Linked DNA regions of Homo sapiens. The protein of the gene in region 6 purifies or fractionates together with the protein of the main gene of each other region. This does not show direct contact. Each region holds a gene or a part of one and is shown on either strand. Other genes may lie near its edges. The genes, in order: CSGALNACT2, SETD1A, RRP1, DIPK1A, TMEM18, CHST5 and ALG9.

Region 1 (4,257 bases), on a different chromosome or scaffold from region 6:
GAGCTTGAGGATATGACAATAAAAATTTCCAAAACAGAAAATCAAAGAAAAAAAAAGACTGAAAATAAAATGAACAAAATATCTAAGAACGGTGGGACAACTACAAAAGATGTAACATATGTATAATGGGAATACCAGGAAGAAAGGAAACAAGGGAACAGAAGCTCCAAATAAAGAGTCTAAGTTCTAAACAGGTGCAGCTCTTTTTCACCCAGCCCACAGCAACAGGGTGGAGGCTCCACTTCCAGGTGTGGCCAGCTGAGAATACTGGGGGTCCTCCTGCCCCTACCCAGTGTCCTGCTCATAGGGCAGAGGTGGTCACTCTGCTTAATAAGTGTGTCACTGTCCCCATCCTCAGGGCAAAACCTCATGGATTTTTTCCCCCGGGGGAGAGGAAGTCCATAAGAACAAAGTGCTCCAAAGTTCTTCCCTAAGGAACTGACTTTATTTAAAATAGAATGTAGAGAAGTTCAGAGTTTAGAGAAGTTCCAGCCTCTTGAAAATAATGGAGATTTTGGTAGTAAGCAATTAAGAGGAGGCTGGTAACTCCAGGAGGGCAACAGCTAAACTGTAGGCCAGCTAATTTACTAGAGAGAACCACAGAGAGAGATAGTAAGAATATACCTCCTGGGGTCTGAACAAATCTCAAAGACTTGCTGCAAAAACTATCCCTGCAAAAGGGCCCAATTTAGTAGGGACAGATTATGGAGCAATTTATGCCCCAGAGCATTGTCAAAAACAAGACAGCAATTAGTGAACAGTCAGTGGAGTCTAATAGGAGTGATACCAATGGAGGCATGGAAAGAGATAAAGAGAGCCCTGCTAAATCCAATGCCATCCTAGGATAACTGCACAGGCCCTGAGGAGCAACAGCAGAGGCTTCATATTGCCAAAAGGTCGGGGAAGGAGGAAGAAATAATTTGTTAAAATAGTCCAGCCATGTCAATAAATAAATAAACAAGGAAAAAAAAAAACCAAGCCGTGGTGGTAGAGGGAAATCAGTATCCAGAGTTGCCACAGTGTATTACCTAAAATGTCTAGTTTTCGAAAAAGAAATAATGAGGAATGCAAAGAAACAAGAAGATGTGACATACGCTTAAAAAAAAAAAAAAAACCGGCAAGCAACAAAAACTGCCTGTGTTAGGGCCCAGACATTAGCTTTAATACACAAAAATTCCAAAGCAGCCATTGTAAGTATGTTCAAAGAATTAAAAGAAGTCACACTTAAGGAAGTAACAGAAGATGACAATGTTTCATCACATAGAGTATTAATAAAGAAATTATATATATATCAAAAGAACCACATAGAAATTCTGAAGTTAAAAACTATAGTAACTGAAATAAAAATTCATTAGAGTAGCTCAACAGTAGATCTAACAGAAAAAACAATCAGAGAACTTGGATAGATCAATAGAAATTATGCAATCTGAAGAACAGAGGGAGAAAAGAATGAAGAGAAATAAACAGAGCCTAAGAAAAATGTGGGATACCATTAAATGTACCAACATACATACAGTGAGTGTCAAAGGAGAAAACTATGAGAATGGAGCAGAAAAAGTATTCAAAGAAATACAGTCAGCCCTCCATATGCATGAGTTCCACATCCCATAGAATCAACCAACATGGTTCAAAAATATTAGGGAAAAAAACGATAAAAAATAACAATAAATATAAAAATTTAAATACAATATAACAACTATTTACATAGTATTTACATTGTATTAGGGTTTTTTTTTTTTTTTTTTGATGGAGTCTCACTCTGTTGCCCAGGCTGGAGTGCAGTGGTGCAATCTCGGCTCACTGCAAACTCCGCCTCCCAGGTTCATGCCATTCTCCTGCCTCAGCCTCCCAAGTAGCTGGGACTACAGGCGCCTGCCACCACGCCTGGCTAATTTTTGTATTTTTAGTAGAGACAGGGTTTTACCTTGTTAGCCAGGATGATCTTGATCTCCTGACCTCGTGATCTGCCCGCCTCGGCCTCCCAAAGTGCTGGGATTACAGGCGTGAGCCACCGTGCCTGGCCTGTATTAGGTATTATAAGCAATCTAGAGATGGTTTAAAGTATATGGGCAGATATGCACAGGTAATATGAAAATATGTATATTTACATAAGGGACTTGATCGACCATGGATTTTGGTTCCACATGGTATCCTGGATCCAATCCCATGCAGGTACTGAGAGATGACTATAATGGCTGAAACTTCCCAAATTTGATGAAAAACATTAATGTACATATTCAAGAAGCCCAAGAAACTCCATAACCCAATTAAAATGGGCAAAGGATCTGAACAGACATTTCACTAAAGATATACAAATGGCCAATAAACACATCAAGAGATGCTCAACAACATTAATCATAAGAAAAATTATAATCAGAGTCACAATCAATACCACATCCACTATCATGGGTGATACTAGAAACAAAAAGATAATAACATGTATTAATGAGGATGTGGGGAAACTGGAACTCCTAAACACTGCTGGTGGGAATGTAAAATGATGCAGCCACTTTGGAAAACGGTGTGGCAATTTCTCAAAAGGTCAAACACAGGATTACCATATGACCCAGCCAGAGTCCTGGGCATATGTCCAAGAGAATTGAAAATCTATGTCCACCCAAAAAGTTAAACACAAATGTTCACAGCAGCAGTATTTATAATAGCCAAAAAGTAGAAACAACTCAAATGCATATAAACTGACAAATGGAGAAACAAAATGTGGTATAACCACACAATAGAACATTTTTTGGCTATAAAAAGGAATGAAGTACCTAACATGTCACAACATGGATGAACTTTGAAAACATTATGTGAGTGAAAGAAGCCAGTCATAAAAGGCCACATATTGTACAATTTGCTTTCTATTAAATTCCCAGAAGAGGCAAATCTATAGGAAGTAGACCAGTAGATGCCTAAGTTTGGGGGGAAAGAGGGTTGGTAGGATGTGAGGAGTGATTGTTAATGGGTATGGGATTTCTTTTTGGGGTGAAATGCTCTAAATTTGATGGTGGTGATAGCTACATGACCTGGTTAACCGTACACTTTAAATTAATAAATTTTATGATATGTAAACTATATCTCAATAAAATTGTCATAAAAAAGAGATAAGGAACTCAAAGCATTCAAGATACTGAAAAAATGTACACAAATCTATTTTTGAGGAATAGTGAAATGCTGCTTGCTTAACTAAGCAAGAAATCAAGGAAAAGAGCATCAGTTTAATTTAACGCCCCTTTTATTGTTATTTCCTGATTTTCCATTATTCAAGTGTTACAATGATAAGGAGACAAGGTGGGGGGATTTCCAAAACAAAAGGCTGGTTATAAAAACGAATGTGATATGGACCTAGAATGTATATAAAATATATTCTATGACTTCTATGCTGTAGAAAGGTAGCTAGCCCTAAATGAATCAGAAGACATGGAATCAGGTTTCAGCCTGCTTTATTAAACTATTCTTTGACACTTTATATTTTGCTGGGTAAGACTGAAGCTAGGGGCTGGGCATGGTGGCTCACGCCTGCAATCCCAGCACTTTGGGAGGCCAAGGTGGGCAGATTGCTTGAACCCAGGAGTTCAAGACCAGCCTAGGCAATATAATGAAGCTCCGCCTCTACAAAACAAACAAAAAAATTAACTGGGTGTGGTGGTGCACGCCTGTGGTCACAGCTACTTGGGGATTGAGGTAGGAGGATCGCTTGAGCCTGGGAGGCAGAGGCTGCAGTGAGCCAAGATTGTGCCACTGCTCTTCAGCCTGGACAACAGAGCATGCAGGATAGTTAGAACAAATTATTCATGGGCCATCTTTAGGCTTAGGGGAATGCATGACTAAGGTGTGATTCCAAGACGCGCTAGAAAGAGCAGGTCTTCTTTCATTTGTATTAAATACTGGGATTTTGTGTAACAGTTCACTAGACAAGTAAAGGAGGTTTCATCTCAAAAAAATGTGAAAGTCCTTGGTCTAGATAACCAAGATTACTCCCAGCTGTAACAACCCATGGGCACAACAGTAAAGTTATAGAGAAAGCTTTTGTAAGACTACTCTAAACACCTGCAACTATGGGTAACAAGTTAAACAGATATTTTTAAAAACAGGTGTTTTGATTTTAAAGGAACAAGTAAATATTATACTTTATTTTTATGACCATTTTTTTCCTATTCAAAACATTAATTATAAACTTATTTTGCCTTTTGTATATCCAGTTTCTCTTTTTAGCTAACCTTAGACACTCATACTTTAGTAGGAAAACACTCAAAT
Region 2 (4,257 bases), about 45 Mb from region 6:
ACTGAGGTGTGAACTGGCCAAAGGAAGATGGGGTATCTTGTCGGCTGCTGGAGAAGCTTGTGTCCTGGGAGCAGGGGGTGCCGTTGCCAGGAGTGCCCACCGCAGTGGTGCCTGCTGGGTAGGCAGCTGTGTCAGAGGAAGAGCGGCGGCGGGATTCGGCCTAGAGCGACAGAGCAGGGCAAGGAGAGAGGAATGGGCTCAAACACCACTTGAGACCTGCCCTTTCCCAAACCAGGAATCCTAGTTCCCTTTTTTTTTTTTTGAGACGGAGTCTCGCTCTATTGCCCAGGCTGGAGTCCAGTGGCGTGATCTCGGCTCACTGCAAGCTCCGCCTCCCGGGTTCATGCCATTCTCCTGCCTCAGCCTCCCAAGTAGCTAGGACTACAGGCGCCCACCACCATGCCTGGCTAATTTTTTGCAGTTTTAGTAGAGATGGGGTTTCACCGTGTTAGTCAGGATGGTTTCAATCACCTGACCTCATGATCCACCCGCCTCGGCCTCCCAAAGTGCTGGGATTACAGGCGTGAGCCACTGTGCCTGGCCCCTAGTTCCCTGTCTTTTGAAAGCATCTCAGCAGCTTTGCTTGGCTCTTCTTTGTTTAACGGGAAAGCCCGGAACCTCCCGAAGACTGCTCCTGCTCCGGGCACCCGGACACCATGCCCACATGGCTAGGGGCTGTGGTAGCCACAAACTTCTCACCGTCTCAGTGGCTGCACCCGAGCCTTGGAACTTCTCACTCAGGGCCTTGCCCCCAGTGGGCACAGTCTGAGGGGTGTAGGAGCCATTGACAATTAGTTCATAGTATTTCATTCGTTGTTGTCCTGGAGGGAGGGAAATGGGAACCAATTGTCAGATGGAGATACTAACTCCTTCCTGATCTGGTATTCCTGCTTTCTCAGGCCTCAAGTTTCCTACAATTTCTTGGAATCTGGGTTTCAGGATTTCAGTTCTCCTACCATAACTCTACCTTTGGGACCTTCTACCTTATCTCTACCTCTAAACTACCACAAACAACATATTTTATGACACTTCACGATTTATCAAAAACACTTCTACTTATTTTACCATGTTGGATCACCAGAAGGGAAGCATCAGTACCTCTGTTCTAGAGGCTTAAAAGCGACCTACACAAAGTCACAGAATTGGTCATTGGAAAAATTGGAATTCAAACCCAGAGGCTCGATCACCCCATGCTCTTTATCCTGTAAACTAAAGCATGCAGAACAGCAACCGGGGGACTAACGGAGCCTGCAGGAGCTGTGGAGTGAACACCTCAGAAACACCTTGTGAGGAAAGAAACATGGTATTTAAAAACCATGAGATTTCACACAAAAACCCAAATTTCTGGCTTGAGTGCAGTGGCACGATGTAATCTCCACCTCCCAGGTTCAAGTGATTCTCATGCCTCAGCCTCTCGAGTAGCTGGGATTATAAGCATGAACCACCACGTCCGGATTTTTGTTATTTTTAATAGAAATGGGGTTTCACCATGTTGACCAGGCTGGTCTCGAGCTCCTGTCCTCAGGTGATCTGCCCACCTTGGCCTCTCAGAGTCTTGGGATTACAGGCGTGAGCCACCGCATGCCCGGCCCTGGCTTTCTTTTACAAACCAAATTCAAGAATGTTAAACCTCATTTCCACTTGCAAACTGGCCAGTGCCTACTAATGGCTGCCTCCTCCAGACAATACTGCAATCTGCAGCTCGCCACAGACCCCACTGCTCCCCATCACTCAACACAGAAGCCCAGACCACCTCGCTTGTGTTCACAGCTCCTTTACTCTCTATCTCAAATTTCCAAACCTAAAAACCCAGAAAATCCAGTATTTCTGAGAATCTGGCACCAAAACCTATATGGGTTATAGAATAGCATATAGAAAGATTAAAAAGAGGCCAGGCATGGTGGCTCATGCCTGTAATACCAGTACTTTGGGAGGCCGAGGCAGGCAGATCACTTGAGGTCAGGAGTTCAAGACCAGCCTGGCTAACAGGGTGAAACCCTATCTCTACTAAAAATACAAAAATTAGCCGGGCGTAGTGGCGCATAAATGTAATCCTAGCTACTCAAGAGGCTGAGGCAGAAGAATCACTTGAACCTGGGAGGTGGAGGTTGCAGTGAGCCAAGATCGTGCCACTGCACTCCAGCCTGGGCGACAGATTGAGATTCCATCTCAAAAAAAAAAAAAAAAAATTAAAAACAGGCTGGGCAGTGTAGTGAGACTTCATCTCTGCAAATAATCAAAAAAACTTTGGCCAGGTGTGGTGGTGCATGCCCATAATCCCAGCTACTCAGGAGGCTGGGGTGGCTGAGCCCAGGAGCTGGAGGCTGCAGTGAGGAAAGATCACGCCACTGCTCTCCAGCCTAGGTGACAGAGCAGGATCCTGTCTCAAAAACCAACCAAGCAACCAACCTGACCTGGGCTGATTTACTACAATCTATTCATCTTACCTAGTACAACCCTTCATATGATTTTTTTTTTTTTTTACAGATAGTTATGTGCTTGATTATGGCCTATTGCCCGACCTTGCTGGAGACACCACACACACAAAAATCCATGTACCATAATTCCACTCTAAAATCTGATCTGATTTCAGAAACACAACTGGCCCCAGCAGTTTCAGATCATGACCCTGGGCGCCTGCCTGACCCTGACAGGCATTTGCATGTACAACCTCCGCTGGAGGCCAAGCCTGAGTGGCAGGCAGAGGAGTCCTCACCTTTGATGTCAAGCTGGGCATGGATGATGTTGCCCATGACGGAGGTAAGGTGGAGGTTTTTGACCGTTTCCTTGGCGCCCCGAGTGCTGGTGAAGAGCACACGGGCCAGGCCCAGGTGCTTGCGCGTACGGGGGTGAAGGAGGATCTCTACCTCTTCCACCTCACCGTACTTACGGCACATATCCTTCAGGAAGGTCTCCCGCACGTTGTCATTCAGCCTTGCAAAAGTCACTTCCTTCAGTGGAATCTGTCCAATATAGAACTCGTCCAGCTGGGGAAAGAACAGGAGTTGGTATGGGGTCTCAACACTGACCACTGTTCCTTTGTCCTTCGGGAAACTTTAGCAAGCTCCATGAAGTCAAGAGAGAGATCCGGGAAAGTGAGGGGCAAGGGAAGGGGCCCAAAATAAGGGATCCATCAGACCTGACCCCTTTTCCCTGAATTCTTCTCACCACAGAATAACAGCAAGAATTAAGAACAGAAATGTGCAAACTAGGCCGGGTGTGGCAGCTCACACTTATAATCCCAACACTTTGGGAGGATGAGGTGGACGGATCACCAGAAGTCAGGAGTTCAAGACCAGCCTGTCCAACATGATAAAACCCTGTCTCTACTAAAAATACAAAAAAAAAAATTTAGCTGGATGTGATGGTGGGCACCTGTAATCCCAGCTACTCAGGAGGGTGAGGCAGGAGAATCACTTGAACCTGGCAGGCAGAGGTTGCACTAAGCCGAGATCACACCACTGCACTCCAGCCTGGGCAACACAGCGAGACTCCGTCTCAAAAAAAAAAAAAAAAAAAAAAAGAAAGAAAGAAAGAAATGTACACACTGAGGAATAAATATACGTGGAGAGAACGAGCTACAGGGCGATGATTTCCTAGCTCAGCCTTTACTAGGTAACTACCATGAACGAGGCACTGGAAATACAGAGATAGAAAGGAAGAGATTCCCATACAGAAAAGCAGCATGACATGCACATACAAACACAACACGACCCAGTGGCAGCTGACGCATACATGGTGTTCTGGAGCCCAGGGAAGGAAACTTTTGTACAGAGTATGATCAGGGAAGAATTCATAAAGATGGTGTCATTCTTACTGAGATTTGGGGATTAACAATTCATCAAATGACAAGGACCCCTGGAACATGGAAATATAAAACAACTTGGTGTTTTTGAAAAACCGCAAAGCGTTATGGTGTGGATGTAACACAGGGGTGTGGTGTCAAGGCGGAGGATAAGGCTTGGCCAGGTCAATAACCATACATGTCAGTGTCCCAAAACATGGACTTGGCAACAAAAGGAAAACAGCAGCGTAGTGAAGCCAAAGAGACAAATGACAGCAAGGCAGAGGAGAAACTGAGGCAAGAACGAAGGCAAGGAGACCAGGTGAAATGAATACCAAGGTCTACATTAAGTGGCAATGAGAATAGAAAGATGAAGAATAAAAAAGAAAAGAGCCAGGAGGATTCGGTGACCAACTGAGAGAGAAAAGGAGAGAATCACAGGCTGCCAGGCTGTACAGCTGAGTCGATGGTAC
Region 3 (4,257 bases), on a different chromosome or scaffold from region 6:
CCTGAGCCCACCCTCCCAGGCCCCAGCCCCACTTTCCCAGGCCCCAGCCCCACTCTCAATGATCCCACTCGTCTACAGGCGGGCAGGGTTGGGGCACCCATCCCTCCTTCAAAGCTAACCCCTGTCCGGGTAACTCTCCATGCCAACAGCTGCCATCCTCCCTCCTAACGCCCCCCTCCTCTTCCAGAGCAAGCGGTAGCACAGAGGGGCAAAGGCTGAGGGCACAGCCATGAGCCCAGGGAACCCACCTGGAGAACGGGGCCGCCACTGTCCCTGTCGTCACCTGCCTGCTCCTCACCAGCCTCAGGTTCAGCCCTGCAGATGGAGCCTGGAACAAAAGGGACCCCGTGAACCCTACCTGTGCCCAACGTGTGCTGGCCCCAAACATCCAGGAATGGAGAGCCCGCTCCGTGCACCCTGGTCGGAGCACGGGCACAGGCGGGAAACACCCGGGAACGGACAGCCCACCCTGCACCCTGGTCAGAACATGGGCACAGGCGGGAAAGCCCACAGCTCAAGGCAGATACTAGGTGCCATGTGACCTCTAATCTCGTATGGACAGGATGAGAGGTGCCACCTCAGGCCTGCAAAGGAAAAAAAGATGTCCCAGGGCACAGGTGCCTACACAGCCCTGAGTGGCTGACTACAAGCTGGCATCTTGGGCAACAAAGGCCATGTCAAAAGTTCTGGAAGTGAGGAGCCTCAGGGTGGCCTGGTCCAGAAGCTGTGGGAGCTGATGTTTCGGCTGGGTGCTCGAGCTAGGCTGGGCATTTGGGGCTTTGATGGCACTGTCTGCAGAAGAAAGGTTTTTGGGCAACAGGCAGCTGTGGGGCAGCATGTGACAAGGGTCTGCTCTGTAGCTGGCAGCAGGGGGCCAGCAGCAGGCACTAGCGGACCTGCCAGGCACCTCAGCTACTGAGAGAGAAGGGCAAGGCAGAGACCAGGGAGAAGCATACAGGGTGGCCGGGCCAAGTGCTGGGGGCGGTGGGGAGGGGGTCTTCTGATTAGGAAGCCAAGGGGAACAGTGGCCACAGCACTGATTTGGGGCATACTGGGGTCCTGAGCGTGGTCAAAGACATGCCCTCCACAGCACCAGGATGCCACACTTAGAGCTCAGACCACCCAGCAGGCTCGGACAATGAGTGCAGCATCAAAACAAAAAATGGGCCAGGCTGGACCCCACGGCTGCCCACAGAGGCCTCTGGCAGGCAGTGAGGGGCAGGTGAGTACACCTGCCCCTCACACACACTGCACACAGAGCAGTCAGGTGCCCTGAGGTCTCAGGCCTGAACCCAGTCATGGTCAATATGGACAGAGCTTGCTGTCCTCTGGGGAGACGGGCCAGGAACGAGGAACACGAGGAGCAAGTGATTCACATCCCGTGCCACAGAGTGACGCTATGGGGAGGACTGCGTTGGGGGCTGGGAGAGGCCAGGAGGCTGAAAGAGTCCAGCCCCAGAGAGTGATGGGGGGAGAGACGGTGGGAGGGACGGAGAGACTCGGCACCAAGGCAGGAACGAGTCTAGGGGGCCAACTGAGCCAGAGGCATGCGTTAGACCGAGGAGCCCAGGGGTCCGGAGAGGGCGTGGAGCACATCAGAGGCTGGGGGATGAGGGGAAACGACGTGTGCTTGGTGCCCACAGAAGTCACTCTGGCTTCTATGCTGAGGATGGACTGTGGAGAGGGGCAGAGACAAGGGGACCAGGTAGGAGGTGGCAGGAGCAACCCAGCAGGAGATCGCACTGGCTCAGCCCAGGACAGGCCCCGAGGAGAAGCCAGGCGCAGTGTGACCCCCACCTGCGGGCGGCTTCTCAGACCTCTTCTGGGACAGCGCGTCTCCACGCTCACCACCCTCAGAGGACTCATCACTGTCCGACGCCACCTCCTCATCCTGTGTGTCCAGTTCATTCAGGAGGTCTTCAATGGCAAGCGGGGCCTGCTCCACAATCGTCTCAAAGATGCCTCGAGTGATGTTGTTCAAAACCAAGGAACTGAGGGGCAGAGCAGAGGCCGGTGAGCAGGCCCGTTATGCTGGATTCCCAAGCGGAAGCCGCCGACTCCCCTGCAACCTCTCCCCACCCACACGGCCAGCGGCCACTCTGAGACAGATTCATCCCTCGAGGGAGCAGCACCCCCACAACAGCAGCCCCATGGAAGAACTCAGTGAAGGAGTCGGGCCCGATCAGGCCACCCACCACTTACTCCTTGGTCCGGGCAGCAATTCTGCAGAAGGGGTCGATGAACTTCAGGTTCTGGTCTGCCGTAAGCTACGGGGAAAGCCAGCGGGAGCTCAGTTCCTCCTCCACAAACGCCCAGCTCCACCGCCCCGTCGGAGCCCAGCCTCACCTCCTCGGCGCCCACTTTGGTCAGCTCCTCCAGGAAGATCTCGATGAAGTGGCTCTTCACACCGTTGGGGGCCTGGCTGCTGGGGTGCAGGATCTCAGTCATCAGCAGCTCTAGCAGCTCCTCGATCTGTCTGAGGAAAGAAAAAGCAAACATGACAGGCAGCCTCGATGAGCCCCAAGACAGCCGTGCCCCCCACTCTCCCATGGTTACACGCTCTGATGGGAACCTAAGTGCGGGCAGGCGCCACTGTCTGCAAACATGCCAGCCTTAAAGTCCACGCAGATGATATCAACGATCCTAGGTCTCCTCCAGCGCAAGGCAGTCTTGCAGTTAGGGAGTTATGTGACCAGCACCACCACCAGAACGTATGGCCTGAGTGTGCATGTCAGCTACAAAATGCAGCACGTGTAAACATTCAGACAGGCCTTCCCTCTGTCCTCAAGATTGCTAGCAGAGAGAAAGGCTTGGCTGAGACGAGACGCCCTGCCTGGTGTTCCTCTCCACTGCCTCCACTGGGTACCGCTGGGGAAGACACGTCAGGACAGCACAGGCAGAGAAAGGAAGGTGGAGGCCCAGAAAGGGGCCGAGGACCATGAGCCACCTGCTGGCTTCCTGGGCCCTGCCGCACGACGCATTCCAACTGTGACGTCCACCAGAGCTCTCCCTGGCAGGCGGGTTTGATGGCATCACAGGCCCTGGATCTGAAGACTAGACAGCCCCAGAGAATAATGTGTAGCACCTACATGCATCTGGACCTCCTGGGGTGCTTAATAACGCAGCTGCCTAACTCAGATCTGTAAACTGTGTGATCCTTAGGAAGCTCCGTAGCAAGGCTGGAGAATCACTCGTGATGGAAAGGAAAAGTGATGCTCTCTAAGGCTCAGGAAAAACGAGACAGAGGCAAGAACAGGTGCTGAGACCAAGAGGAAGACACACAGATGCAAGGGACCGACTTCCCAGGCCAGTGGCAATGGCGTGGATATTAATGACAGCCTGGTTATGCCTGCAGGAGATCCAAGAGGGCGGGAAGAGCGGACCCCACTGTCAGCACTGGGACCGCAGCAGGCATTGGGGGAAGGCACCGAGGTCTTCCACATGATTCCTGTGCTGAATTCTCAGTTACAGGGAGAAAAGTACTCTTGTAATAATATGCCAAAAAAAGTTAACACAAGTAAAATCATCCCTTTAACATTTAATTCAGCTTAAGCCATGAGACCCCTATGGGGTAATCCACAATGCTAAGGCCCAGAATGAATGAGACTCCTGGCATCAGAGTCCTGCCAGGGAATAGAAGAATGAAAATCCCTCCAAACCAGAGGCACCGCTGCCCTAAATGCAAAATCACCCATGCAACTCAAACCTAGAGAAACTCAGCAGCCACAGTTCAATTCCTGCTGATTCTTTAAAAAAAAAAAACAAAAAACCAGAATCTCACTCTATCACCTAGGCTAGAGTGCAGTGGCTCAGTCACAGATCACTGCAGCCTCAAACTCCTGGGCTCAAGAGATCCCCTTAACCCACCATAACCAGCCTGCTAATTCTTTTCTATGCATTTATCTAATTTTTGTACTTTTAGTAGAGACACGGTTTCACCATGGTGGCCAGGATGGTCTCGATCTCTTGACCTTGTGATCTGCCCGCCTCGGCCTCCCAAAGTGCTGGGATTACAGATGTGAGCCACCGCGCCCAGCCAATTTACATATTTTTAGAATTAGGAGCAATTAACATTGCTTACAACTTGGGAGGCCTAGGCAGGCAGATTGTTTGAGCCCAAGAGTTTGAGACAAGCCTGGGCAACAGGACAGAACTCGTCTCTACCAAAAAAAGATACAAAAATTACGTGGGCCTGGTGGTGCACATCTGCAGTCCCAGCCAGTTGGGCGGCTGAGGCAGGAGGATCACTTGAGCCCG
Region 4 (4,257 bases), on a different chromosome or scaffold from region 6:
CCAGGTGCGGTGGTGCGCCTGTGATCCCAGCTACTTGGGGGGCTGAGGCAGGAGGATGGCTTAAACCCAGGAGGCTGAGGCTGCAATGAGCCGAGATCATGCCACTGCACACTCCAGCTTGGGCACCAGGGCAAGACCCTGCCAAAACAAAACAAAACAAATAACCAACCATCTTTTAAAAAAAGAAAGAAAGAAAAAAAATCCCCAGGCCTCCTGGTGCTTACCCCAGGCTGTGTTCTTATACTGACTGTATAGAATGAGGAGGTGAACTCCCATGTACACCTCAGCCCAGGCCCTGCGCCTTGTCTGTATTGTGAACGGGAGCACACAGAAAAAAAATTCATGGGATACATAGTGATATTTCAATACACACATACAATTTGTAATGATCAAATCAAGGTAATTAGCATATTTATGTCTCAGTTATCATTGTGTTGTGAACATTCACAATCCTTTTAGTTTTTTGAAAATAACCAAAAATTATTAATCCCTTTACCCTATAGTGCTATAGAACACTAGAACTTATTCTGCCTATCTAGCGGTAATTTTGTATCTGTTAACCAACCTCTCCTTATTCTCCTCTCCTCTGTACCCTTCCCAGCCTCTAATAGCCACAATTCTAAGAGTATACTCATTTTATTTCACCTTTTTTGAATTAATTTTCATGTCAAACTGTACAGCACTCCAATTAATTAATGAACTCCCTCCTCATATCTGGACATTTTTAGCTATCATAAATAATGTTAAAGTAAACATTCTCCAACACAGATTTCTTTTCTTTTTCTTTTTTTTTTTGAAACAGGGTCTCACTTTGTCGTCCAGGCTGGAGTGCAGTGGTGAGATCTTGGCTCACTGCAACCTCGACCTCCCAGGCTCAAGCAATCCTCGCACCTCAGCATCTCAAGTAGTTAGGACTACAGGCACATGCCACCACTCCTGGCATATATATATATATATATATATATATATATATATATATATATATATATATGTGTGTATATATATATGTGTGTATATATATATATATATATACACACACACGTATATATATATATACGTGTATATATATATATATATAGCTGAGGTCTTACTATGTTGCCCAGGCTGGACTTGAACTCCTGGGCTCAAGTGATCCTCCTGCCTTGGCCTCCCAAAGTGCTGGGATAACAGGCGTGAGCCACCACGCCCGGCCTCTTATAATTATTTCCTCAGGATGGAGAATCTGATAGAGGTCAAAGAATATCAACACTTTAATGGCTTAGGATGAGGTCCTGCCAATTCCTCTAAAGAGTCCCACTTCACACTAGCAACATATGAATGGGTATGCTTACCTTAAAGAGACTATAGACCATTTCTTTAAATTTTTGTACAGTAGTTCCTCTAGTTGGCTTATCAAATAGCACTATTTCTTTTCTTGGTTCCAATTCAGTTCCAAAATCAAGATGAAGCGCTTGTTCCATTTGACATTTCACAACACCTGGTAGATTATCCCAAATCCCTAAATACATCTATGTAAAAAAGAGTGGCAAGTTATGTATTATACTGAGTAGAAAACTCTAAAAAATATACTACTATATTTTTAGGGTCCTCCTCCTCTGAACAAAACAAAACAAGCATCAAACATTGAGGTTAAGGTGTGACTTTATTTCTGAACTGCAAACTTGAAATCACACTCAAGATTTTTTCCTTAAACTAATTTTTTAAATTATAAGAGTAATGCATGCCTAAATATATTTTTCAAAAAGTCCAATGAGAAGGATGTAAGGCAAAAGCAAAGTTCCCAGACATTCTACTTCCATAATCCCACTTCCCCAGAATTAACTACTATTTAAGTATCTAGTTATTTATCAAACTAATATTATATAGTGTTAACTATGTCCTATGGTCTACTAATTTATTTTAGAGACAGGGTCTTGCTTTGTCACCCAGGCTGGGGTTCAGTGGCATAATCATAGCTCATTGCAGCCTCAAAGTCCTGAGCTCAAGGAATCTTCCTGCCTCAGTCTCCCAAGTAGCCAGGACTATAGGCATGTACCACTAAACCTGGCTAATTAAAAACATTTTTTGTAGAGATGGGGTCTTGCTGTATTGCTCAGGCTGGTCCTGAACTGCTAGCCTTAAGTGACCCACCTGCCTCAGCCTCTCAAGTTGCTGGGATTGTAGGTATGAGGCACCACACCTGGCTTTTACTGATTTATGTTATTATTTTAATCCTTGTACCAATCTTAGGTGGTAGGTACTATCATTATACTTATTTCACTGATGGGGAAACTGAAGCAGATACAGGTGAAGTAACATGCTGAAAAGAGCTGAGGTCTTTACCACTAGGATAGGTTGCCCCTCTTCTACATAAAAAAATAAATAAGATCATATTCATTCTTAATATTAATCCAAAGAAAACATTATTTCACTGCCTTGCTCCAAACCCTCTAATAAATTCCCCTTTCAATTAAAGTCCAAAGTCCTTTCCATGACCGGTTGGGCTCCATTTGAGCTAGCCTCGCCTATGTCTCCAACCTGATCTTGTACCACGTACTCCGTTTCTCAAAGTCCCAGCTACACTGGTCTTTCTGTGACAGGTTGAAGCTTGTTTCTGCTTCCTGACCTGCTTCACTTGCTGCTGGCTCTGCCTGGAATGTACTCTCCCAGATCTTCACATGGCTGGCTCCTTTACATCATTCAAGTCTCAGATTAGACATTGCATTTAGAAAGCCTTCCCTGACCCCCTGTCTAGAAGAGATCCTCTTCCACCCCCAGGTCACCTCTAACCCTGTTTCATTATCCTCATAGCCTTTTGCACTGTCTAAAATTATCATATTTATTTATTTATCAGTTCATTACTATCTGTCTCATCTCACATTAGAACATGAGGCCAGAGGCTTTATCTGTCTCCCTCAGTGCCTCAAACAGTGCCTGGCATGCAGGAGACACTCAAATGTTGGACTTTGTTTTAGAAATTGTCTTTAACATGATTAATACTGTCAACTGAAAAATTAGTTTAAATTTCTATAATAATAATGCATATTTATATAGGAAAATTTAGGAACCATAAGATGAACATTAAAATGCAATTTTCCACTGCTCCAGATGTTTCGTTGTATTTTCTTCTACCCCAATTAGATATTCTACTGTTTTATTCTTATTTCTCTGATGAAAAGTAAGGTAGAATTTTTTTTCATTATGTTCATCAGCTGTTTGCAGTTCTTTTGTGATTTAGTTCATCCTGTCCTTTTCCCATGCCTATGAATTTTTTATTAAGGTATAAGTTCAAATATTATTTCAGAAAGGTCTTCTCTGATCACATCCTCTAAAGCACTTCTCACCATCCCTTACACTGCATTCTCTATCAATTTGCCCTCTGTGTCTCCTACAGAACACACCATATTCTACAATTATTTTGTTTGTTTATTTATTTATTTATCAACTGTTTGTACCTCCTGTCCCTCTGGAATCATGTAAGGTCTGTAAGGGAAGCAATCTTGTCTGGTTTTTTTTTGTTTTTTTTTTTTTTTTTGAGACAGGGTGTCACTCTGTCACCCAGGCTGGAGTGCAGTGACATGAACACGGCTCACTGCAGCCCTGACCTCCTGGGCTCAAGTGATTGTCCCACCTCAGCCTCCCGAGTAGCTGGGACCATAGGTGTGTGCCACCACACCCAGCTAATACATATATATTTTTTGAGACAGTCTCGCTCTATTGTCCAGGCTGGAGTGCAGTGATGTGAGATCTTGGCTCACTGGAACCTCCGCCTCCCAGGTTCAAGCGATTCTTGTGCCTCAGCCTCTGGAGTTGCTGGGATTACAGGCATGTGCCACCACACCCGGCTAATTTTTTGTGTTTTTAGTAGAGAGGGGGTATCGCAATGTTGCTCAGGTTGGTCTTGAATGCCTGGCCTCAAGTGACCTACCGCCTCAGCCTCCCAAAGTGCTGGGATTACAGGTGTATGCCACTGTGCCTGGCCACCCAGCTAATTTTTGTATTTTTTGTAGAGACAGGGTTTTGCTATGTTGCTCAGGTAGGCCTCAAACTCCTGGACTAAAGCAATCCACCCACCTTGGCCTCCTGAAGTGCTGGGATTACAGGCCCGTGCCACGGGCCCGGCTGTTTGTATTTTTTTATTTTTATTTTTTATTTTTTGAGACACTCACTCACTCTGTCACCCAGGCTGGAGTGCAGTGGTGGGACCATAGCTCACTGCAGCCTCAACCTCCTGGGCTCAAGCAATCTTCCCACTTCAGCCTCCTGAGTAGCTAGAAC
Region 5 (4,257 bases), on a different chromosome or scaffold from region 6:
GTCAACACCTCATGAGCATGGGGCTCCCGCCTTGCTGGCGCTTACACTCTATACCATGGGAGGCCCAGAAGTAAGAGGCAGCCAGTCCAAGCATGTGGCGAGTGCTGCTACAGAGAAATGTGAAGCCTGTCGGGGGTGAGGGGGCCTCGTGGAGTCGTAGGCACAGCCATGAACGGCTGGGACAGAGCTGGCAGGAGGCCGCAGGGCATCACTGCAGGACTCCGCGTTTACTCTGGGGGAGCTGGGGACACTCTGGAACGTTCTGAGGGGCAGTGCTTGGCTCTGAGGCCCACGCTTCCCCAGGATGCCCAAGAGGCTGGGCAGTCGGGGGACGGCTTAGGGACCGCTGCATGTCAGCAGCGGGTCGGCGAGGGTGGGGTGAAGGGCATGGAACACACTGGGCTCGTGGCTGATCTTAAAGGTGGAGGGACGGAGCTTCCTGAACAATGCCCTGTTACGTCTCTGGTCTAAGAAGCTGGAGGGAGAAGCCGCCCCTACGAAGAGGGGGGAGCAGAGCAGTCGGACTGAAGTGTGAATTTTGAGATGTTTGTTAGACGTCCTGGTGCCCAGTCCAACAGGTGGGACAGGCAAGAAACCCAGCGCTTTTGAAACCAGGAGATCTCGGAGAAGCATGAAGACAGGAGGCTGCGGCCAGAGGGAAGGGAGGGGCCAGAAAGGTGCTGCACCCTGGAGCTGGGTGTGGGAGGGCTTCGGGGAGGATGACCCTGTGCCAGCCTCTGGACAAGGTCAGGGTCACCAGGGACTGAACACCCCTCCTGGGACTGAACCATGTGAAGGCCCTGCATCCGGGAGGAGAGGCAGGGTCCTCCTGGGACTGAACCATGTGAAGGCCCTGCATCCGGGAGGAGAGGCAGGGTCCTCCTGGGACTGAACCATGTGAAGGCCCTGCATCCGGGAGGAGAGGCAGGGTCCTCCTGGGACTGAACCATGTGAAGGCCCTGCATCCGGGAGGAGAGGCAGGGTCCTCCTGGGACTGAACCATGTGAAGGCCCTGCATCCGGGAGGAGAGGCAGGGTCCTCCTGGGACTGAACCATGTGAAGGCCCTGCATCCGGGAGGAGAGGCAGGGTCCTCCTGGGACTGAACCATGTGAAGGCCCTGCATCCGGGAGGAGAGGCAGGGTCCTCCTGGGACTGAACCATGTGAAGGCCCTGCATCCGGGAGGAGAGGCAGGGTCCTCCTGGGACTGAACCATGTGAAGGCCCTGCATCCGGGAGGAGAGGCAGGGTCCTCCTGGGACTGAACCATGTGAAGGCCCTGCATCCGGGAGGAGAGGCAGGGTCCCCAGTGAGCCGCTTATGGCTAAAGAGAGGGCAGGGAGGAGGGAGGGCAGAGACAGTGCTGCAGGGACGCTGTCGTGGAGGGAAAGGCTGAGCAGGGAGGAGCAAGGCAGGAGGAGGCCGAGTCAGGGGAGGGTTCGGGAAACCAGGCGGGGTCTAAGCAAAGGATTTCAGGGAGTGCTCAACAACCCCTTTCGGTGAGGGCCCAAGATCAGTGTTCAGGGCTTATGGGCCACAAGGCCACAGTCTCAGCTCCTTCCTGCTCAGGGTCTGGCAGTTTTACTTTTTTTCTGTTTTATATTTTAAAACGTAAAAGCCATTTTTAGCTCACAGGCCACTCAAAAACAGTCCGTGGGTCTCACTTGACAGAGGCTGTGTGGTTCAACCTGGGCAGGTGCTGGGTTCCGAGTCCCCTGGGATGAAGCCAGGGGTAGAGGAGGGGGCAGAGGACGCAGGGCCAGGGCTGCCAGCGGTGCCCCCCGACATCAGGATGTGGGGCTGGGGATGAGGCAGGCAGGTGCCCCAGACCACCCAGAAGCCCCCTACTCAGGTCCAGACTCCCCATGGAGCAGCCACCCTGCAGTCCAAGGGGGAGGGCATGGCTGAGGCCAGCGCGGACCACGTTCTCTAAAATGCTGCTGTTTCTATTCTGCAGCTCAAATTCCCATGGCCACTTCTCTGGCTCTGCCATCAGAGGCCTCAGCCAGCACTGTCCCACAGTGCCACGCTCAGAAAGGGCCACTGTGGCGCTGGTAAAGCATTTACGGAGTCACCCTGGAGCCCACCAACCCTGGATGCACGGGCACGGGCTGTGCACAGCTGCCACGTTAGGATTCACTGTCTCCTCCGCGAGTCCCACCGGCTGTGGGGCCATTCCCAGGGACACCCCTGCAGGGACCTGGTCACAGGCCCGGGGGTGGGCTCACCTCCAGTTCATCGCAGCCGCCTCATTGATGTATTCAGCACAGTAGACTAAGATGACTGAAAAAAGGTACAAGTCATATTAGAATTTAGATGGCCCGTTATTACTCGTTATAAAGTTATACATTCTTTACAGCAGAATACTGAATAGAAATGTCACTTTAATTTTAAACATAACATCAGGTAAACATCCTAACATTGTCAAGTCGTAGGACTCACCCATTTAGCAGAAAGAAAATCAAGGCCAACAGTGCTTCAGTTCTCCAATGCTCTATGGTCTCACTCAGAGCCCGTGCTCAGGTCAGCACCTGCAGAGCTACTGCAGGAGCCGCCCGAGGCCCCAGGCTTCACCCAGGCATGGCTGGACCTCACACATTTCCCCAGGGACAGCAGCCACAGTTCAGCCCCACAGAACACGGCAGCAGGAGCTGAGAGCCACGAGACCCAGAGCTGACAACCAAGGGCTTTTCACGCTCACACTTCCCGGGCTGACCTTGGGACACTGCCACTGAGATGACCATAGGAGGGGAGCGAACAGCTTTGGGGTGCTGGAGGCAAAGGCACGGGAGGGAGGGCAGCAGCTGGTGGGGGCAGGGCAAGGCCTCCATGCTCCCAGGAGCACACAGACTTTAGGGACTGGCCCAGGGTCTTCAGCTAATTCGTGGGTAATGCTGGTACTCAAACCCATGAGACAGTGACCCATGGTACCATAAAATCAAATAAAATATGATTCGGCAAATTAAGAAAAATGTGATGCTTCAACTTCCAAGGTAAATCAAACTAAAAATCCTTTCATTCTTCTTGATACACATCAGAAAGCAGATTAAACTAGGGGCTACGGTGAGCAGTCCCTCCACTTCCTCCCTTCAGGAATGGACTCAATAAAGCAGAGGAAAAGAATGCACAGGGAAAGAACCAGAGGGGAGGGGAGGGAGGAGGAGGAGGAGGAGGGGGAGGATGGGGGGGAAGGAGAGGAAGGAGGGGAAGGAGGAGGGCCAGGAGAAGCAGGACAGCCAGGCAGGTGAGAAGGGTAGGCTAACACAGGAGGTGGTGGGCATGGGTGCGGGGAGGAAGGTGTGGAGGGCTGACGTTACAGGGGGAAGGTGGGGAGGGTGGTAGGCACGGGAGGAAGGCGGGCAGGGAGGGTGTCACCAGGTGCTCCTCCTCAGCTATTCCTGAAATGCACCCTGGAGCAGAGTCTGAATCTTGAATCTTGATGGTGCTGGTTATAAGCTGTATAGCTGAGGGAGTTAGAGAACCTCTGCATGTTTCATTTATAAAAATGGGCAAATAAAATCCAACTCTTGGCTGGTTTGAGAAATGAATCACAGGAAATGTAATGGCAGGCAGCACAGTGTCTAGTATTACCCCGGTGTGAAAGCAGTCATCCTTCCCCTTATCCTAGAAAACATCAAACCCTTTGTGCAGTTCTCCAGCTGACAAAGCTATTCAGATCCAGGAGCTCAGCTGGTGAAGCCATCACCTTTCTTTGAGATGCCTGCCTCAGGGCCTCTGCGTGGGGCACTTGCTCCTGCCCTCTGCCAGCATCTCACTGCCTGGCTCCTGCCTATGCACCTTTTGCCCCTGGGTTCCCAGGGGACTGTGTGATTTAAATCAGGCCGCTCCTCCTGTTTCACTGTGTTTTTGGCTTTTCCATTGCAACACTTGTCACTGTTGATAACACAGGTCTGTGATGAATCACTGGTGCTGGTGTCCCCCAGGAAGCTGTGGGAGGCAAAGGAGCCCTGTCTGCCTGGTCCACTCCAGCACTCCTCAGGGCACCCTCAATACAGAGCTTGCTCTGAGCGCCTCACTTGCATAGGCCCCCACTGTGATGCAAACCCTCATCACTTCTCCAGTCTTTCTAAGATCATCTCTTCTTCAGATTTCCCGCTTTGCACACAGCCAGCTAACTAAACTTATCTGAAATTAGTTATTTTTAACTACCAAGCAAAATCTTCAGTGTCTCCCCAATGTTGAGAGTCAAGAGTAGCCTGAGCCAGGCCTCCAGGCCCTCCTCGCCTCTTCTACCCACA
Region 6 (3,296 bases):
CTGTAGGAGCGGCAGGCCTCCCGGGCCAGGCTGAATGGCTGCCGCGTGCACAGTGTCTTGCATACGTCCTGCTTGCTGATGGTGCCTCGGGGAAAGGCGCTGCAGGCGGGCGGCGAGCACAGCGCGCGGCTCGTTGCCCAGTTGAAAAAGGCGGACAGGTTTCGGCTCTGTGGCATGTAGGCATCAAACACGTCCATGTCGCACAAAAAGATAGAGCGCATCAGGTCGCGCACGGCCATGTGCAGCGTTGCCGCGCTGCCCTGCGACAGGGTGGTCCACACATGCCACGCGGGCTCCATCAGGTAGAAGACGTCGGGGTGCTGGCTGAAGAGCTGGCCCAAGAAGGATGAGCCCGAGCGCCACGAGGACAGCACCAGCACGTGCACACGATCCTCGCCGCCGGCTGGGGATGAGGGCCCTGGCCGGGAGATGATGAAGAGCAGGAGGCAGGTGGTCTGTGCCAGGAGGAGCACTGTCACTGTCTTGCTGGAGAACCGTGGCAGCCACATGCGGGCGGCTGGGGGCCTTCGGGTGGAGTGGGCAACTTTAGGGACCCGGGCCCTCATGCCCATCCCATGCCCCAATTACTGCCCAGTGCCCTCAGGGATCAGCCCTCAGATTCGGCTACCCTACCCATTGGACTTCCCAAGACTCCCAAGGTCTCAGTCGAGCACTTTCCCAGGAATACGGAGTCAAGACATAGGCCAGAATATAGTCTGTGCTCACAGCAGAAGTCCAGTTGCAGAATAATGTGGGATATCATCAAACTGTCTACCTACCCACCCACCCACCTACTTACATACCTACAGGCTATCTATCTGTAGAGAGAAATACTATGTTTCAAAGAGAACTCCTGTCTTTTGCTTCAGGATACCTCTTAGAGAGACCCTTTTAGGTTGTGGAGCTAAAAGGGCTTGATGGGGGCTTCGGTGGATGTCAGAGCACCACCAGGCTCGCCGAGGTTGAATCCTGGCTCTGCCACTTCCTAGCCTATGATCTTGCTTATGAAGATCACTTAAATCTCTCTGTGACGGATCACTTTACCCGTGTGTGAAAGAGGGATAATTCCGGTACCTGGCTCACAGGATCTGGGGGGATTGGGGGGTTATTATAATGAAGATGGGGGAAGGGAACACGCAGTCATGCCCATAACTGAGGATTGCACCTTTTACAAGGTGTGCTTCTGTATTATATAATTTTTTTAACAGGCAGGTATAAAACTTTTGTCAGCCAGGCGCGGTGGCTCACGCCTGTAATCCCAGCATTATGGGAGGCCGAGGCGGGCGGATCACGAGGTCAGGAGATCGAGACCATCCTGGCTAACACAGTGAGACCCCATCTCTACTAAAAATACAAAAAATTAGCCAGGCGTGATGGTGGGCGCCTGTAGTCCCAGCTACTCGGGAGGCTGAGGCAGGAGAATGGCGTGAACCTGGGAGGCAGAGGTGGCAGTGAGCTGAGATTGCGCCACTGCACTGCAGCCTGAGTGAAGAGTGAGACTCCGTTTCAAAAAAAAAAAAAAAAACAACAAAAAAAAAACTTTTGTCATTAAAGATAAACAAGTAAATAAAGTGGACAAAGAACAGCAACTGTTGTCATCACTGGTGGGGAGTGAAGTGCTGTAGGCAGCATGGGCTCCAGAAGGAGGGTGTCCTGGAGCCCTGTGGGTTTGCAAGAAGATCAGTTGATGGGGAGCTGGGATGGAGCCCAAGAAGCAGAGAGGTGAGAGCAGAGTACTGTCCTGGCCAGCTGAGGGGACTCACCACCGTCCAGGGCTGCTGGGAGAGCTGCAACGCTGATCACAAATCCATGGGAGATGTCTCGACATCTGGCAAAGCAGGAAGGAGAGGAGATCAGAGCCCTACAGAGAGACAGCCCTGTACATAGAAAGCTCCCCAGGGTGGGAACAGAGCTGTCCTGCCTGCCTTTTGCTTCAGGATAACTCGTAGAGAGACCCTTTTGGGTTGTGGAGCTAAAGGGCTTGATGACGGTTTAGGCGGATGTCACACCACCACCAGGCTTGCTGAGGTTGAATAAGTCTGAGTAGGGCATTTCTCCAAATGGCTGGGAACTGGCGGGGTCTCCTGATGGATGGAAGCGAGAGAGCTGGCTCCAAATCCCAGCACTGCCAATGGGGAGCTATGAGACCTGGGGCAAGTGACTTAACTTCTCTGAGGCTCAATTTGCACCTCTGTAGAATGGGATTTGCAATATTTAACCTCTTAGAGCTGTTGTGATGGATGCTGCTGCAAACACCTATGAGGGGAGGGCCTGGGGAAGCATTCCTTACACACATGCCCCTGTTACTGTTACTGTCCCTGTGCTGAGCTACATCTGGAGAGAAAGAACCCCCTCCACCTGGTGAGTCTCCCCACAGAGGAGACACCCACAGGCCACCTACCCTTCCAATCCCTGTATCTCCCAGGCCATCCTCTGGCGTCCAACCACCCTGAGCCTTTAGTGGACCTTAAGAATGTCACGCATTTCTCACAGGGTGGAAGGAACACTGAGCCAGCCTCCCGCATTCCAAGGTCCTAAAGTGTTCTTCTGTTTGCACCTGTTGCATCTGCAATGATCTCAAGGCTGGGTGACTTTGGAAGGGAGGAGCCTGGAAGTTTTCTCCTTGCTCCTGCATCCTTTGCTCCTTGCCTGCCCCCTTCCCCTGTCCACACTGCCCACTGAGAGAAGCCAGGGTCTAACTTGTGAGCAGATCTCACCTCTGCTCCTTCGCCTCAATGCGGGGACAGGAGTGAGCGGAGGATGCCCAACACCTCTGTCACCTGCTGACTCCCGAGCTGCCTTCTGGATCCCCACACCCACTCCTGGAAAACCTGGAAGATGAGGAGAGTAGCCCCCCACCTCCGCTACAAGTGCAACTGTACTTTTTCCAGTGCTGGCTGATGGATGGTGAGCTCCCTTGCCAACAGAGTGCCAGAAAGGAAGGGAACTCATATTTGCTGACTTCAATGATCACAAGTGCTAGGTGCTTCGAGTCCACTGGATAACTTAACTCTGGGCCCTGAGGTGGGCATGATGATGTCAATTTTTCAGGTGAAAGACTCAAGGCTTAGAGAGACAGCAAGAAAGCTGGGACTCCAGGACTCCTGTTCCGAAGCTCCTGGCACTTCTGATCCCAGGCTGTGGGCCTCTCCCACCTGTGATTGCCCCCTGCAGAGTGCAGGACCCTGCTGCTCTGGCCCAAACACAGTTGTCCTGGCCAGCCCAGCCCTTCCCTGGGTAGGGAGGATCTTGATCCCAAGCTAAGGTGTTTGTTACCTGTGTTCCAGGAAAGCCAG
Region 7 (4,257 bases), on a different chromosome or scaffold from region 6:
CCTGTAAATGCTTCCTGTTCAATAATGAGATATTCAATAGCTACTCAATACCTACCATGAAAAAATATGCAGCAAAAACATTATTTTTGCAATATAGTTATAATGGTACAGTACAAACCACAGAACCTTTACACTTATTCACTCCTAATTCTTGATTAGCCCAGAGGTAAAGAAAATAGTGAAATAAAAAAAGTCATACAACTTTCCTCGTTTCCATGCACAATAGAAACGGGACAGGCTGGAGCACTTAGCATTGAAGCCAAAGGCTGGCTAAAACCTGCCACCCAGAGCTAAAGGTCCATGCCTAATTTTCATGATTCTGCCACCACAGATAAGCAAAAAAATCCTCGCATTCAAAGGGCTGGACACAGCTGCTACCCAGCAGACATAAATCACTTGTTTTTCCCTGCTTTTATCAGCCAGCATTTTGGTGACTCCTACTGGCATCCTGAAAAATCATCACCTTTCGGGTAAAGCTCATATAGAGTCATTTAATCAAATTTAACACTGTCTGACAGCAGAGAATATGGAAATATGATCTAACTAAGACAACCAGTGATAAAAGCCTAAGAAATGTGCAAAAGGCCACTGTAGATTTTCTAGCCAGCTTTCTCTCAACATCATTACCACAATGACGATGAATATTCATTATCCACTGAGAAAGCATGTAAAAGTGAACTACTGGGTACATGACACCGTCCTAGACACTATGGTGAACACAAAAGAAACAAAGTGCAGTCATTCTCTTCATGGCATTCACATATTTGATGTGGAAAGATATGATATCAGAAATATTTAACTAAGACCAAGAAAATTAAATGGCTAAATGAACTGCACAGATAAATACTGAAGACACTTAAAGGAAGGTCTGCTCAATATGGACTTAAATAGTTCACTTCAAAGAGGAAGATAATTTTGATAGTGTGAGAAGAGACACAAGGGTAGTTCAGGCATAGTCACCAATATAAGCGAAGTCACTGGGGTGGAAAACGCAATGATGAGTCTGGAGACACTGGAATAAAATTACAAGGATGGGAAACAATAAAAAGAAGGAAGGGGAGAGATTGGGTTTCTTTACCTGGAATCTGTCTAATATACCATTATCAGATTAAGAACACTTGTGCAAGCATAAGAACATTGCATTTTTGCTACAGAGAGATATAATATCAAATATCATAATTCCAAAGTAGGTGCCATTTTACAGACAGAAACTGAAATTAAACAGAGAAGCTAACTAATTTGCCCAAGGTTATCAAGTTTAGCAACAGAGCTGAGGTTTGAATGCAGGCCTACTCAACTCCAAAGTCCACGCTCTTTTTTTTACTACTCCATTTTTACTACCTCTTCCTAAAGCAAAGCTCCGATAACATCACTCTGAATTCATACTGTCCCCCTATGACAGTGTATTTTCCCACCCTTTGACTGTCCAGCTTCTCTAGAATGATGCCCTGCACTCAGGAGACTCATATCTGCAGATAAAATTAAAATGACCTGTAACAGTCTACCCTGCCCAAGGGTATTTCCATTGTAACAGGAATCAGAGCCTTAAATTAAAAGAATAAAGCTCTAATACAATCCATGTGGCAGAAACGCCTGTCTTACAAGGGAACAGCTCAAGGCTGTGTCTTTAAGTGTCCATTTTCATAGCTTATAGTTACAGCTCATACAATAAGAATCTCACTCATAAACCCTGAGGGTCTCCATGGAACTCTAACCAGCCCCAATCTGGGAGACAAAAGACCAGATGTGGCTGCAGGTTTGCTTCAGAAGAGAATTGGAAGTCTTGCTATTTTACATTTTAAGCATATGACATAAGAAAATGTAAATTAAATATAGCTGACATTTAAACTGTTACATATTTCTTTAACGGACAGGTTATCAGGTTATCAAAAAATGTGCTTTCTAATAATTCTAGACAACGATCTTACACTGTCTTTGTGACCCAAAAGGAGCATTATCTTTATTACTTCTTACCTTTTTCATTATCAAAGATTTCACAGGTATCAAATGTCAAAAGTGTCATCTTTCAAAGGAACTGAAGTAAAATTCGCATGGGATCTCAGAATGTGTAAAGACAAGTAGGGAGAAGATCATGGCCCTGACAGAGGCTGCTCCCTGGCATTCAGTATGGAAACAGTCTTTACTGTTCATTTGTTAAAACCGGAATATACTAATAGCTAGGTCAAAGGTCCACCTGATAACTTGAAAGTTCCTCATTAAGGATTTTAATAGGCCAAGGAATGATATGAGTTTCAGAATAATGGTTCAAACTTCTACCGTAAGAAAACTTTCAGCCTACCCAAAACCTTCAAAATTAAATTATACATTTTACATAGAAAATAAAGAGGTTAATTTGAAAATAAAAGTGATACTGTTTACTGTTTTTCAACAAAAGCTGTTATACCCCTCATCCTAAAAAATATCCGGTTTTTTTCTGAGACAGGGTCTCACTCTGTTGCCCAGGCTGGAGTGCAGTAGCGGAATCATGGCCTACTGCAGCCTTGAACTCCGAGGCTCAAGTGATCCTCCTGCCTCAGCCTTCTGAAAGGCTGGGATTACAGGCATAAGCCACCACACCTGGCTTATTTTTTAATTTTTTGTAGAAATGTGATCTTGCTATGTTGCCCAGGCTGGTCTCGAACTTCTGAATTCAAGCAATTATCCCGCCCGTCTCCCAAAGTGCTGGGATTACAGGTGTGAGCCACAGCACCCGGCCTTAAAAAAATTGCTTTCTAAGAAATTCTCATTTTATCAATGCTCTAATATACACACCAACAGACTTTTAGGCATAGAATTCTTTTCAGAGAAGCAAGAAGAGAATGTAGCCCTTACATATCTGGATGGCTCTTCTAGATTCTGGTCATTCATGTCAGTAGGAACAATCCGGGTGGCCAGAGGTCCTTCTGCAAAAGGTTTTGGTAACTGACCTCTGAACTCTGATGGAATGAACTGAAGCTGCCAACTGTCAGAAACACAAGGAGAATAAGAAAAACACAGGGGGATAATATTGCTAAATGTACTTGAAACAAACAAGCCAGGAAAATCATGTGAAAAACATTTCTCTTGAAGAAAAAATATTTCTGCTAAAACCTCAACCAGGGAGCACAGAGGCAGAGGTCACAAGTCAGTCCAAAATCATTGAGAAATTTATAATTAGATGTCTCTTGACCCATTTCACCAACTGTTAGCAGTGAAATTCACAACCAAATGGTCATATCATCAAAAAACCAGAGAAGTGCCAATGCTTATTGTCAATTACTATGTGGGCAGAGAGACTTATCAAATAAAGCAAATTATCAGGTGTAGAGAAAAAGAATGAAATGTAATATATGGCACTGAGAACACACTATGGGAGAAATACTTTGTTCCGGAGTAACCCTCAAACATATCTTTATCTATAAAACTATTTCAAACGTAAAAGGCAAAGGCTAAAGTCAACACTTAAAAAACAAGTTTTAATTTAATCATTAATGACTGACACAGGGTCTTTATGAAGCATAAGAAACTACTACCCAGTAAAGCCAAGCTACTGAAGCCATTTCTCAAATGGAGCAACATGACTCATCTTAACCAGATTTCCCTTTAACCTACACAGGACTCTTCTCTGGCCAAATGAAGCAAACTACAAAGAACTTTAGGGCCTATGCTCTCAGAACCACAGAAAGCATAAAGGAAACTGGTATAGACATTTTAACCACAGCCTTCCCCAGTGTCCACATAATGGTGGAGAACTTTCACTACTGTTGGGTCAAGAATGTCTTCTCTCTTCTAGCTGGAGTTTCTAGACCACTTTTAGAAGAGGATTAACATCAGATCATTATAGAAATGTAAATATGAATCCCCACGAAGAGCCACTGGCAAAAGCCTAGGACCCAGGGCATTTTCAGAAGTCCCCAGACACCTGCAGTTATGGGCAGTGCAGAATGTCTACCTAGACCCAGCCCTCAGCCTAATAAGCCTAATGAACACAGGAGGCAGGTACACAGTACACAGGCCCCACAGCTCTCCGACGTGGTAGATAATTCAATAACTCTCTGTGAAAACTCCAAAAGAAAACAAAAATTAGAAGACACTGATATAGAACTGCTCTATTTACTCCTTCATTTAAAACCCTAGGAATTAAAGGACAACTTACTTGTCAGGAAGAAGGAAGCTGCTGGGAAATCGATACCACTCTTTTCCCACACAGACATTCACAGGTCTGCCTTCTGGGACAGTGTGGATGGTTGGGTCTGTAGCAATTCGGTAAAATTCTGG

What was found.
Region 1: the proteins of CHST5 (region 6) and CSGALNACT2 purify together in Homo sapiens (affinity purification with mass spectrometry; one large-scale study listed by BioGRID and IntAct). This does not show direct contact.
Region 2: the proteins of CHST5 (region 6) and SETD1A purify together in Homo sapiens (affinity purification with mass spectrometry; one large-scale study listed by BioGRID and IntAct). This does not show direct contact.
Region 3: the proteins of CHST5 (region 6) and RRP1 purify together in Homo sapiens (affinity purification with mass spectrometry; one large-scale study listed by BioGRID and IntAct). This does not show direct contact.
Region 4: the proteins of CHST5 (region 6) and DIPK1A purify together in Homo sapiens (affinity purification with mass spectrometry; one large-scale study listed by BioGRID and IntAct). This does not show direct contact.
Region 5: the proteins of CHST5 (region 6) and TMEM18 purify together in Homo sapiens (affinity purification with mass spectrometry; one large-scale study listed by BioGRID and IntAct). This does not show direct contact.
Region 7: the proteins of CHST5 (region 6) and ALG9 purify together in Homo sapiens (affinity purification with mass spectrometry; one large-scale study listed by BioGRID and IntAct). This does not show direct contact.

What each region holds. Positions count from the first base shown.
Region 1 is NC_000010.11:43,176,107-43,180,363, reverse strand, and holds part of CSGALNACT2 (chondroitin sulfate N-acetylgalactosaminyltransferase 2), read right to left. Parts: intron 1-4,257. UniProt on the Homo sapiens protein: Transfers 1,4-N-acetylgalactosamine (GalNAc) from UDP-GalNAc to the non-reducing end of glucuronic acid (GlcUA). Required for addition of the first GalNAc to the core tetrasaccharide linker and for elongation of chondroitin chains.
Region 2 is NC_000016.10:30,959,997-30,964,253, reverse strand, and holds part of SETD1A (histone-lysine N-methyltransferase SETD1A), read right to left. Parts: intron 2,988-4,257; coding exon 2,717-2,987; intron 822-2,716; coding exon 700-821; intron 161-699; coding exon 1-160. UniProt on the Homo sapiens protein: Histone methyltransferase that catalyzes methyl group transfer from S-adenosyl-L-methionine to the epsilon-amino group of 'Lys-4' of histone H3 (H3K4) via a non-processive mechanism.
Region 3 is NC_000021.9:43,795,641-43,799,897, reverse strand, and holds part of RRP1 (ribosomal RNA processing protein 1 homolog A), read right to left. Parts: intron 2,477-4,257; coding exon 2,347-2,476; intron 2,268-2,346; coding exon 2,203-2,267; intron 1,992-2,202; coding exon 1,798-1,991; intron 329-1,797; coding exon 249-328; intron 1-248. UniProt on the Homo sapiens protein: Plays a critical role in the generation of 28S rRNA.
Region 4 is NC_000001.11:92,845,852-92,850,108, forward strand, and holds part of DIPK1A (divergent protein kinase domain 1A), read right to left. Parts: intron 1,509-4,257; coding exon 1,332-1,508; intron 332-1,331; exon of another isoform or gene 208-331; intron 1-207.
Region 5 is NC_000002.12:670,582-674,838, forward strand, and holds part of TMEM18 (transmembrane protein 18), read right to left. Parts: intron 2,282-4,257; coding exon 2,227-2,281; intron 1-2,226.
Region 6 is NC_000016.10:75,529,813-75,533,108, forward strand, and holds part of CHST5 (carbohydrate sulfotransferase 5), read right to left. Parts: 5' UTR 3,277-3,296; intron 1,829-3,276; 5' UTR 573-1,828; coding exon 1-572. UniProt on the Homo sapiens protein: Sulfotransferase that utilizes 3'-phospho-5'-adenylyl sulfate (PAPS) as sulfonate donor to catalyze the transfer of sulfate to position 6 of non-reducing N-acetylglucosamine (GlcNAc) residues and O-linked sugars of mucin-type acceptors.
Region 7 is NC_000011.10:111,833,333-111,837,589, forward strand, and holds part of ALG9 (alpha-1,2-mannosyltransferase ALG9), read right to left. Parts: coding exon 4,136-4,257; intron 2,963-4,135; coding exon 2,833-2,962; intron 1-2,832. UniProt on the Homo sapiens protein: Mannosyltransferase that operates in the biosynthetic pathway of dolichol-linked oligosaccharides, the glycan precursors employed in protein asparagine (N)-glycosylation.